2 linked regions of the Homo sapiens genome follow. The protein of the gene in region 2 interacts with the protein of the main gene of each other region in a biochemical or structural test. Each region holds a gene or a part of one and is shown on either strand. Other genes may lie near its edges.

Region 1 (3,699 bases), on a different chromosome or scaffold from region 2:
CTTCACCCAGGATATTGGTTTTATTTAGGACAGATGAATACTACATTCTCGTGGTTGAAAATACCTATTACATCATTTCTGCAACTTAGGATAATTTAGATTTATTTCTGGTTGAGCATTCCAAATCTGGAATCCTCCCGTGAGCATTTTCTTTGTCTTGGGTTCCAGATTTTGGAGTATCTCAGATTTGGGATTTGGGATGCTCAATCTGTGGTAGGATAAATTATAAAGTCCTGTGTATGACATGACATAGTATTTGCGTAATTTAAATGTACATAAAGATGGAGTCTGTCACCTTGTCACCAGCCCCAGTCTTCCCCGTCCCTGCACAGCTCCTTTACTGACATCCCATTTTCTAGGCGAGTCCCTTGGTGGAGGCACACTGCTTGTCCCACTCCTCCCCTCACTGCTCCTGCTCGGGGCGCCCTGCATCCCCCACACTCCTAAGGCCAGTGGCTCAGTGTTCTTGGCCACTACACTGGGCCACCTTCAGTCTACCCTTGAATGTCAGATTGACATGGCGAGGGTTTTTGGTCAGCCTCGTTTTGTCTTGGCCAGGCTCTTTGGGCAGCCTCTGGGGTGGCTGAGATTGGGAGCTTAGACACCAGGGTTCAAGGTTATTGATTTTGTTTTTTGCATATTTTACACATATTTTTTCGGCCATCCCTTAAATGTGATTTCCAAAAGAATGAACTGTAGCCTCAGCTTATACTGTGGAAGATATCATTTATGGTAACCCAGGGATCTTTTTGCCCCATACAGTACAAGTTCTTAGGTTCCATAGGCACGCTGGATTAAGGGCAATTTGTAATCTTAGCCAGAAATCATAGGTTACAGGTTCGTAAAGTTACTAGCGCAGAAGCATTAGCAAGATCGTGATGTATTTCTTAGGCTATTGTTGGCCTCCACACAAATTCATGGAGTTGCTGGATGTGGTTTAAAGGGTACAAGATCTCTGTGTTAGATAATATTGGAGTTAATCCATTCCTCTGGGAGGGGAATTTTGTGTCCCGGATGCCGTTACTGGAAGGATAGCATTGCCCCTTGGTGAGACTGTTAGGAGAGTGAAGGAGAGTGAGTGACAGATGGAGCTCTTGGGAGTGGCAGCTCATCATTTGTTGGTGCAGTACAGGCCACCAGAAGAGGATGGATCTGCCGGGGCGCTCCCTGGTAGTACAAAGAGCAGGAACCCGCTAGAGGAGAGATGTGCTTTCCATGAGCGCCAAGGGCCCAGCCTACCCCCAGACAGATGTGCCCTTGAGAAGTGGGGACTGTTGGCACCAAGAGGGGTTGCCTCCGCGGTGGCCTTCCTGGATGGAGCTGCCCGTGTTGAGCGCACTGTGCTCTGTGTGGGCAGGGGTTCCAGCTGCTTCCCAGCCCTTTCATGGGCAGGCCCCTGGAGCTCCACCACCCCAAGGAGCCCCAAAACCCTCCTGCTGAACATGCCATGAATTTGAATGCTTGAAGGCATAGCTTTAAAAACAAAAAAAAACCCTGCTTTGACTGCAGGGTGGTAGGGGGAGTTAGCTTTGTTTTTGTCACTATTTTTAAAAGTATATTTGCAGTAACCATTTTTTTCAATGAGAATGAACTCATTCAGTCTTGGCTTTCATTGTTGATTGGAGCTAATTGGTGAATGGAGCTGGCTTTGCTCTCTACAAGCCTTGTCTTTTTCATTGACAGAAGGAACCCAGCCAGCCGGCGGAATGCAAGCAGCAGTAGGAAGCGGAGGCGGGTGCCTGGCAGACCGGCTGTCGGGACTCCAGGCCTGTGGGCGGGGCCTCGGTCCTTGCCGCAGCACAATCCCGTGGACAGAGCTTACTCCATCTAACTCGTTTTCAAGTGCATGATTTTCACTTTCACTTTTCCTTTTTCCTTATTATTTTGCTTAACTTGTACAGTGGCAACTGAAATGCATTTCAGAAATAGGAGGTTTCGTCCAGCACCCTCTGCAGCCTTGGTGCCTGTAGCTCTGGACTTCCCTGGGCCTTTCCCTGTGGGAGGGCCCTGTAGACCACATCAGGGTGGGGTGGGGGTCACTTGGCAAAAAGGGCCGAGGTCTGGTGATGTGGTTCCCAGGATCTGGAACCTCTCCCACCCCTCCTGCAGTTGGACTGAATTCTTCCCTTTCATCCGAAGAAACCCACTTGCTGTTTCCAGCCGCTGAATCTGCTGAGTGTGCAGCCTGCATCACCTGCTGTATGCCGATCATCTCAGAAAGGGCTGTGTAGAGTAGGGCCCTGTTCTCCTTAGGATGTTGCTTCTTGATTTTTTTTTTTTTTTAGGGGTGGGTCAGGGTTGTGACACACCAGCCCAGGTGAGAGCTGCTGCGGGTCACCTCATATTTATTTATCCCTTCTTGCCTGTGAGGACTGCGGCTTTTCGCTGTGGCTCGTCCTTAACGTTTCTGAACCACCTTGGTGCCCTGAGCAGGAAGATGTGCCACTTCCTAGCAGGCGCAAGGCCTGTGCGGAAGAAACGCCGCTCCCTGCCACCAGGGCTGAAGATGCGAGCCCGTCCTCATGACGCAGGCGCCACCCTGCTGCCGGAGCCGGGCTTCGGCAGTCTTCTCCACTGAGGGACTGGGCTGGGAAGTCCTGCGTTTCAGTGGAGCGTATGAGCGTCAAGTCCTGCTTTCTCAGTAGCCCCATTGCGGGGCCCCACCATTCATCCTGTCTGAAGGTCCTGGGTTTGGTGTGACCGCTTGGCGGCTGGTGGGTGGGGTTTTCAAGTGGGTGACGGCGCTCTCCGGCAGCCGGGGATGGCCGTGTCCGCACTGACCAGGCCTGTGGAGAGTGCTCGGCCTAACCTTAGAACACATTTGTAACTGAATACAGTGTTTTCAATTTGTACAGAATAGTTAGAATATTCTATTAAAGTGGTGAAACATTGAGTCAGCACTGTGCCATGTGGGTCTTTGCAGGGGAATGTGGTGGGGAAGGCTCAGATGTGCTGCACACCTGTTGGGCTCTGTTGAGCCCTGGGTATTGGTGGCTCCAAGACCGGTTGTACAGTTTACTTCTGAGGCCTTGAAAGCTCAGTTTGAGGCAGAGGCTGCTGTAGCCCCCCCACTACACCTAAGTTGCTGCTGTATGCAGGCAGCTTCACTGCGGGCCCAGGGGAAGACTGTTCCTGCCCCCAGGAGGGGATCATTTCTCAGAGTTAGTGGGACTGTGCTTTGTAGATCCAGAAGGCTCCAAGAGGAGAACTTCCTGATAAAGCCCATGTTAGGTGTGTTTGCTCTCTGAAGCTTTTCCCCGTGTCTCTTCCATCCACAATGAGAGGAGGCACTCAACACCTGCTGCACAGGCACTTCCTGACCTGACCGTGGGAATCCCAGCCTTGGCAGCGCCGCCTGGTGAATGAAACGCTGTCATGAGAAGGCAGCCGTGGAGCTGGCTCATTGCTCCCCACGTGGCTGGCCCCGCCCTGCTGCCTCCAGCTCACCCGTGGGCTGCCTTCTCTCTGGGAGCAGCAGGAAGGGCAGGTGCAGGCTGGGAAGTGAATGCTTGCAGCATACCCCCAAGGGCCGGGGAGCCTGATGTCTGTGCTTCCTGCACCCGTTCCTCCGTCCCCATCCTGTGAAGTACCTGGGGGAGCTTGGTCTCAGGCTCCCCAGCCTCAGGGTGGCCCCATGGGTGAGCAGCACCCTGGCCTTACTTGGTCTGCCCAGGGTCAGACCCCATAATCCAAGGGGCA
Region 2 (5,559 bases):
TCATTATGTTGGGCAGGCTGATTTCGAACTCCTGACCCTATGATCCGCCCTCCTTGGCCTCCCAAAGTGTTGGGATTACAGGCATGAGCCACTGAGCCCAGCCGGAATGCAGTCATCTTTAAAACTTAAAAAGCCCGCCCTGAAATGCTAATGGGCAGCTATCCTTCTTTGTTCTCTCGTTTCTGTATTAATATTTCACCCTTTTCTGACAAGTGCACATGAATAAACAGCCTGTGTATTAATGATAAATTTGTATACACAGCATGGACCTATACACAAAATAACGCAGTGAAACCTTGGTGTCACAACCTCGGTTTCTATTCTTGTATACCTTTATAAACGCATTTTTACTGCAAAGAAACACCAGTAAGATAAATTAGTGCATGAAATGTGAGCAAGGATTTCAATAAAGAACTGACCAGTAACGTCAGAAGCGTTCGTTAAAAATTAGGACAGTGAACATTGAGATTTCAGGCATCGTATGTGTATTCCAGCACTTTACAGAAAAGGTGGGTGGCTCTGAAAAGAGCCTTTGGTTTCTGGGACTCGGGATCACTGACGGATTTGACTAGTAATCATTTCACTTGCCCTTGGCCTTATGGTGGCTCTCCGTCTTCTTAGGCAGCAATACGGCCTGGATGTTGGGCAGGACACCGCCCTGCGCGATGGTCACGCGACCTAGAAGCTTATTTAGCTCCTCGTCGTTGCGGATGGCTAGCTGCAGGTGGCGCGGGATGATGCGGGTCTTCTTATTGTCGCGAGCCGCGTTGCCAGCTAGCTCTAAGATCTCGGCCGTCAGATATTCCAGCACCGCTGCCAGGTACACTGGAGCGCCGGCCCCGACTCGTTCGGAGTAGTTGCCTTTGCGGAGGAGGCGGTGCACACGGCCAACTGGAAACTGAAGACCGGCCCTGGAAGAACGCGTTTTAGCTTTTGCCCGAGCTTTGCCGCCTTGCTTTCCACGTCCAGACATAGTGGCTTCCTAACAGCAGAAGAACTAACAATCCACTGAATAAAGAAAAAGAATGGGCTCGATGGAGGAATAAGAAGCTAGTTATAGTCATCGGTAGAATTGTGAAAGGCGCAATTTGATTGGTTAAAATTGTTCTTTGACGAGCCAACCAATTAGAAAGGAAATAAGGTGAAGGCTATTTTACATGTATGCGTCACTAACACATTGCCCAATCAGAGCTGGATATTTTGAATTCTTTATTTGCATGAAAGGCCTATAAAAGGAGAGACTCTAGACACGAGCTTTTATTTAAGTGCGTTCATTCTCACTGCTGTTATTGTTTTCTGACAGCATGCCTGAACCAGCTAAGTCAGCTCCTGCTCCGAAGAAGGGTTCCAAGAAGGCTGTGACCAAGGCGCAGAAGAAGGATGGCAAGAAGCGCAAGCGCAGTCGTAAGGAGAGCTACTCCGTGTATGTGTACAAGGTGCTAAAACAGGTTCACCCCGATACTGGCATCTCATCCAAGGCCATGGGCATCATGAATTCCTTCGTTAACGACATCTTCGAACGCATCGCAGGCGAGGCTTCCCGTCTGGCCCACTACAACAAGCGCTCGACCATTACCTCCAGGGAGATCCAGACCGCCGTGCGTCTGCTGCTTCCCGGAGAGCTGGCCAAGCACGCAGTGTCCGAAGGTACCAAGGCTGTCACCAAGTATACAAGCTCCAAGTAAATGTGTGCTTAGGTGCTTTAAAACTCAAAGGCTCTTTTCAGAGCCACTCAAGTCTCACATAAAGAGCTTTAATATTGAATTTCACCGTTTTCTAGGGAATAATTTTTCCGATTTTGTAATCCCAGCACTTTGGGAGGCCGAGGCGTGCGGATCGAGACCAGTTTGGCTAACGTGGTTAAATCTCGTTTCTACTAAAAATACAAATATTAGCCGGGCGTGGGGCAGTCGCGTGTCATCCCAGAGACTCGGGAGGCTGCCGCAGGAGAATCACTTAAACCCAGCAAGCAAAGGTTGCAGTGAAAAGACATGGCGCTTTTGCATTCTAGCCTGGGCGACAAAGGCGAGGCTTCGTCTCAAAAAAAATTGATCAGGAGATACTCCTGTTCTGTGTTGGCAAGATCCTGTAATCCTAGCACTTTGGGAGGTCGATGCATGAGGCTTTCTTCAGCTCAGGAGTTAACAGATTTGCCTGGGCAACATAGAACTCGTCTCTGCAAAAAAATGAAGCTAACCAGGTGTGACGGCTTGCGTCTGTACTATCATTTACTCGGTAGGCTGAGGTGGTAGGATAGCTTAAACTCTCGGGCTAGAGACTGCAGGAACATGTGAATACGCTAGTGCAATTCCAGCCTGGGCAACACTGGAAAGGGTAGGAAGAGTAGTCTTTGGGTCCCTAAAGATCACCTGATAACAAGTTTGACTTTTCTGAGCACTCTTGTGGAGTTTGTTGTGGAGGGAATACCATGGGCATTGGCAATGTAAAGTTGATCTAAAAAATCTCGTTTTCCGCCGTGCGCGGTGGCTCACGCCTCTAATCCCATCACTTTGGGAGGCCGAGACGGGCGGATCACGAGGTCAGGAGGTCGAGACCATCCTGGCTAACACTGTGAAACCCTGTCTCTACTAAAAAAATACAAACAAAATTAGCCGGGCGTGGTGGCACTCACCTGTAGTTTCAGCTACTCTGGAAGCTGAGGCTGGAGAGTCACTTGAACCCGGGAGGCGGAGGTTGCAGTGATCAGAGATCGCGCCACTGCACTCCATCCTGGGCGAAAGAGCTAGATTCCATCTCATAAAAAAAAAAAAAAAAAAAAAAAAAAAAAAATTACAGTTTTGGCTGGCTGGGCGCAGTGGCTCTCGCCTGTAATCCCAGCATTTTGGGAGGCGAGGCTGGTGGATCACTTGAGGTCAGGAGTTCAAAAACAGCCTGACCCACATGGTGAAACCCCGTATCTACTAAAAATAACAAAATTAGCCGGGCGTGGTGGCGCATGCCTATGTTACCCCAGCTACTTCGGAGACTGAGGCAGGAGAAACGCTTGAAACCGGGAGGCGGGGGTTGCAGTGAGCCAAGATCCCGCCATTTCATTCCAGCCTGGACAACAAGAACGAAACTCCGTCTCAAACATAGAAACCATTAGTTTATACTCATTAATCAAATTTCTAAAATGGGACCAAAAAAAAAAAAAAGGTCACTACTCCATAGTACTCCATGAGCAACCTCAGGTTTCTGACAACATAGTACTCCAAAGTATGGCGCCTTGACATAGTAAATATTCTAAGACATTAGTAGAACAACATAGACAAGAATGTTCGTATGACCTTCCTCTGAAGCAGGTCTTAAGACCCTCCTGGGAGTCTTGCAGAGTATGCGAGGAATCTGAACAAATAAACCTTGCTAGATTTCTCCTTGTTTATTATCCTTAGCTCATATTATTTTTGTCTTGTTATATTTCTGCATGACTCTCTTCATCAAACCTAGTGCAAACACACTCAGGTTTAAGCCCTTCTTCAGGTCCTTATTTCCTTATGTCATGTAAAACTTCATATTAAATGTGAATGTTTTTCTCTTGGCCGGGCGCGGTGGCTCACGCCGGCTCACGCCTGTAATCCCAGCACTTTGGGAGGCCGAGGCGGGCGGATCACGAGGTCAGGAGATCGAGACCATCCTGGCTAACACGGTGAAACCCCGTCTCTACTGAAAATTGAAAAAAATTAGCCGGGTGTGGTGGCGGGCACCTGTAGTCCCAGCTACTCGGGAGACTGCGGCAGGAGAATGCCATGAAGCCGGGAGGTGGAGCTTGCCGTGAGCCAAGATCGGGCAACTGCACTCCAGCATGGGCGACAGAGCAAGACTCCGTCTCAAAAATAAATAAATAAATCAAAATAAAAATAAAGTGTATATTTTTCTGTTGTTAATCTGTATTTTGTTTCAGGGCCCCAGCCAATGAACATAAGATGGGTAAAAGGAAACGCTCTTTCCTCCCCTACAACATACAGTAGGGGTGGGTGTGCATCTGTGTTCTGTGTGTTTGTCTTTGTGGAGTACAAAAGCTAGCATAACATAGAAAAGGTGTGGAGAAAAGTATTCCCAGAATGAAAATGTTTGAGAAGTGTGTTCGCTAGGGCTGCCAAAACAAACTACCAAAGACTGTGTGGCTTAAAAAAATTAATTTTGTCACAATTCTGAAGGCTACAAGTTCAAGATCAAACCAGTGAGCATGATTGATTTTTTCTGGGGCCACTCTCCTTGGGTTTTCCCCTCTCTGGTCTTCCCTGTGTGTGTGTGGGTTGTGTTTTAATATCATCTTATAAGGACAGCAGTCAGAATAGATTAGGACCTACCCTTAAAACCTCATTTTACACCTTTAAAGACCTTATCTCCAAATAGTCACATTTTCAAGTAGTTGGTATTGGACTTCAATGTTTGAATTGTGGGCTGACTTGGATTTCAGTCAGGCAATTCAGTCAATATCAAAAATTATGGTGATTAGGCTTCTAAATAGTACATGAAATAAGTATTTCACAGGCATCTGAAACTCAGCACAACCAAGACAGACCTTATGATACTCTACCTGGCTTCACTTACTCATCCAAGTTTGAAATCTAGTCCCCATTCCAGACTACTCCCTTTTCTTTTCTGCAAATATTTAAAAATATACAAACTCATTGATTTTAACTTCTAATTTTGTTAATATTGTCCATATTTTTGTTTACTGTGGCTAACAACTGGAAATACTAATGTTGAAGAGTTGGACTTTGCCTAAAACTAGGTTTTATCCCTAATGGAATATTATGCAGCTGTTAAAAAGAATGCTTTAAAAAAAACGACATAAAATATGCTCATGGCATTGTATGGGGTAAATCCAAGTTGCCAAGTAGTGTATTCTTATTTACATGATGTCACACACACACACACACACACACACACACACACACATATAGTTTTAGGAAAAAAGAGTGACTATAAGGGTCAATGCCAAGATGTTAACAGTGCTGTTACATTTTTTTTTTTGGTGCAACAGACAGCTCCTCTAAAGATAACTTTCTCTATTTGTCTCTATCCCAAACTATCAATGGTGTGGTTAAGAAATAGGAAACTCGGCCGGGCGCGGTGGCTCACGCCTGTAATCCCAGCACTTTGGGAGGCCGAGGCGGGCGGATCACGAGGTCAGGAGATCGAGACCATCCTGGCTAACACGGTGAAACCCCGTCTCTACTAAAAATACAAAAAATTAGCCGGGCGTTGTAGCGGGCGCCTGTAGTCCCAGCTACTCGGGAGGCTGAGGCAGGAGAATGGCGTGAACCCGGGAGGCGGAGCTTGCAGTGAGCCGAGATCGTGCCACTGCACTCCAGCCTGGGCGACAGAGTGAGACTCCGTCTCAAAAAAAAAAAAAAAAAAAAAAAAAAAAAGAAATAGGAAACTCTCCCTAGGCCCTTTCCTCTCCAAGTCTCCCTGCTGTATGTTAAGAAAAATTAATTTATTCCACAAGTAATTATTGAGCACCAACTACATACCAGCTATTATCCTATGCAATATACAAATGAATAGAGTAAATTTAAGATACGCTGACTAAAGAAATCGAAAATCAAG

What was found.
Region 1: the proteins of H2AC8 (region 2) and NAP1L4 form a complex in vitro, tested with the Homo sapiens proteins (one study listed by BioGRID).

Annotation. Positions count from the first base shown.
Region 1 is NC_000011.10:2,943,631-2,947,329, reverse strand, and holds the end of NAP1L4 (nucleosome assembly protein 1-like 4), read left to right. Parts: intron 1-1,683; coding exon of another isoform or gene 1,684-1,722; 3' UTR 1,723-2,893; downstream 2,894-3,699. UniProt on the Homo sapiens protein: Acts as a histone chaperone in nucleosome assembly.
Region 2 is NC_000006.12:26,212,389-26,217,947, reverse strand, and holds H2AC8 (histone H2A type 1-B/E), read right to left. Parts: upstream 1,028-5,559; 5' UTR 974-1,027; coding exon 581-973; 3' UTR 511-580; downstream 1-510. Other genes in the region: H2BC8 (histone H2B type 1-C/E/F/G/I), read left to right, coding at 1,305-1,685. UniProt on the Homo sapiens protein: Core component of nucleosome. Nucleosomes wrap and compact DNA into chromatin, limiting DNA accessibility to the cellular machineries which require DNA as a template.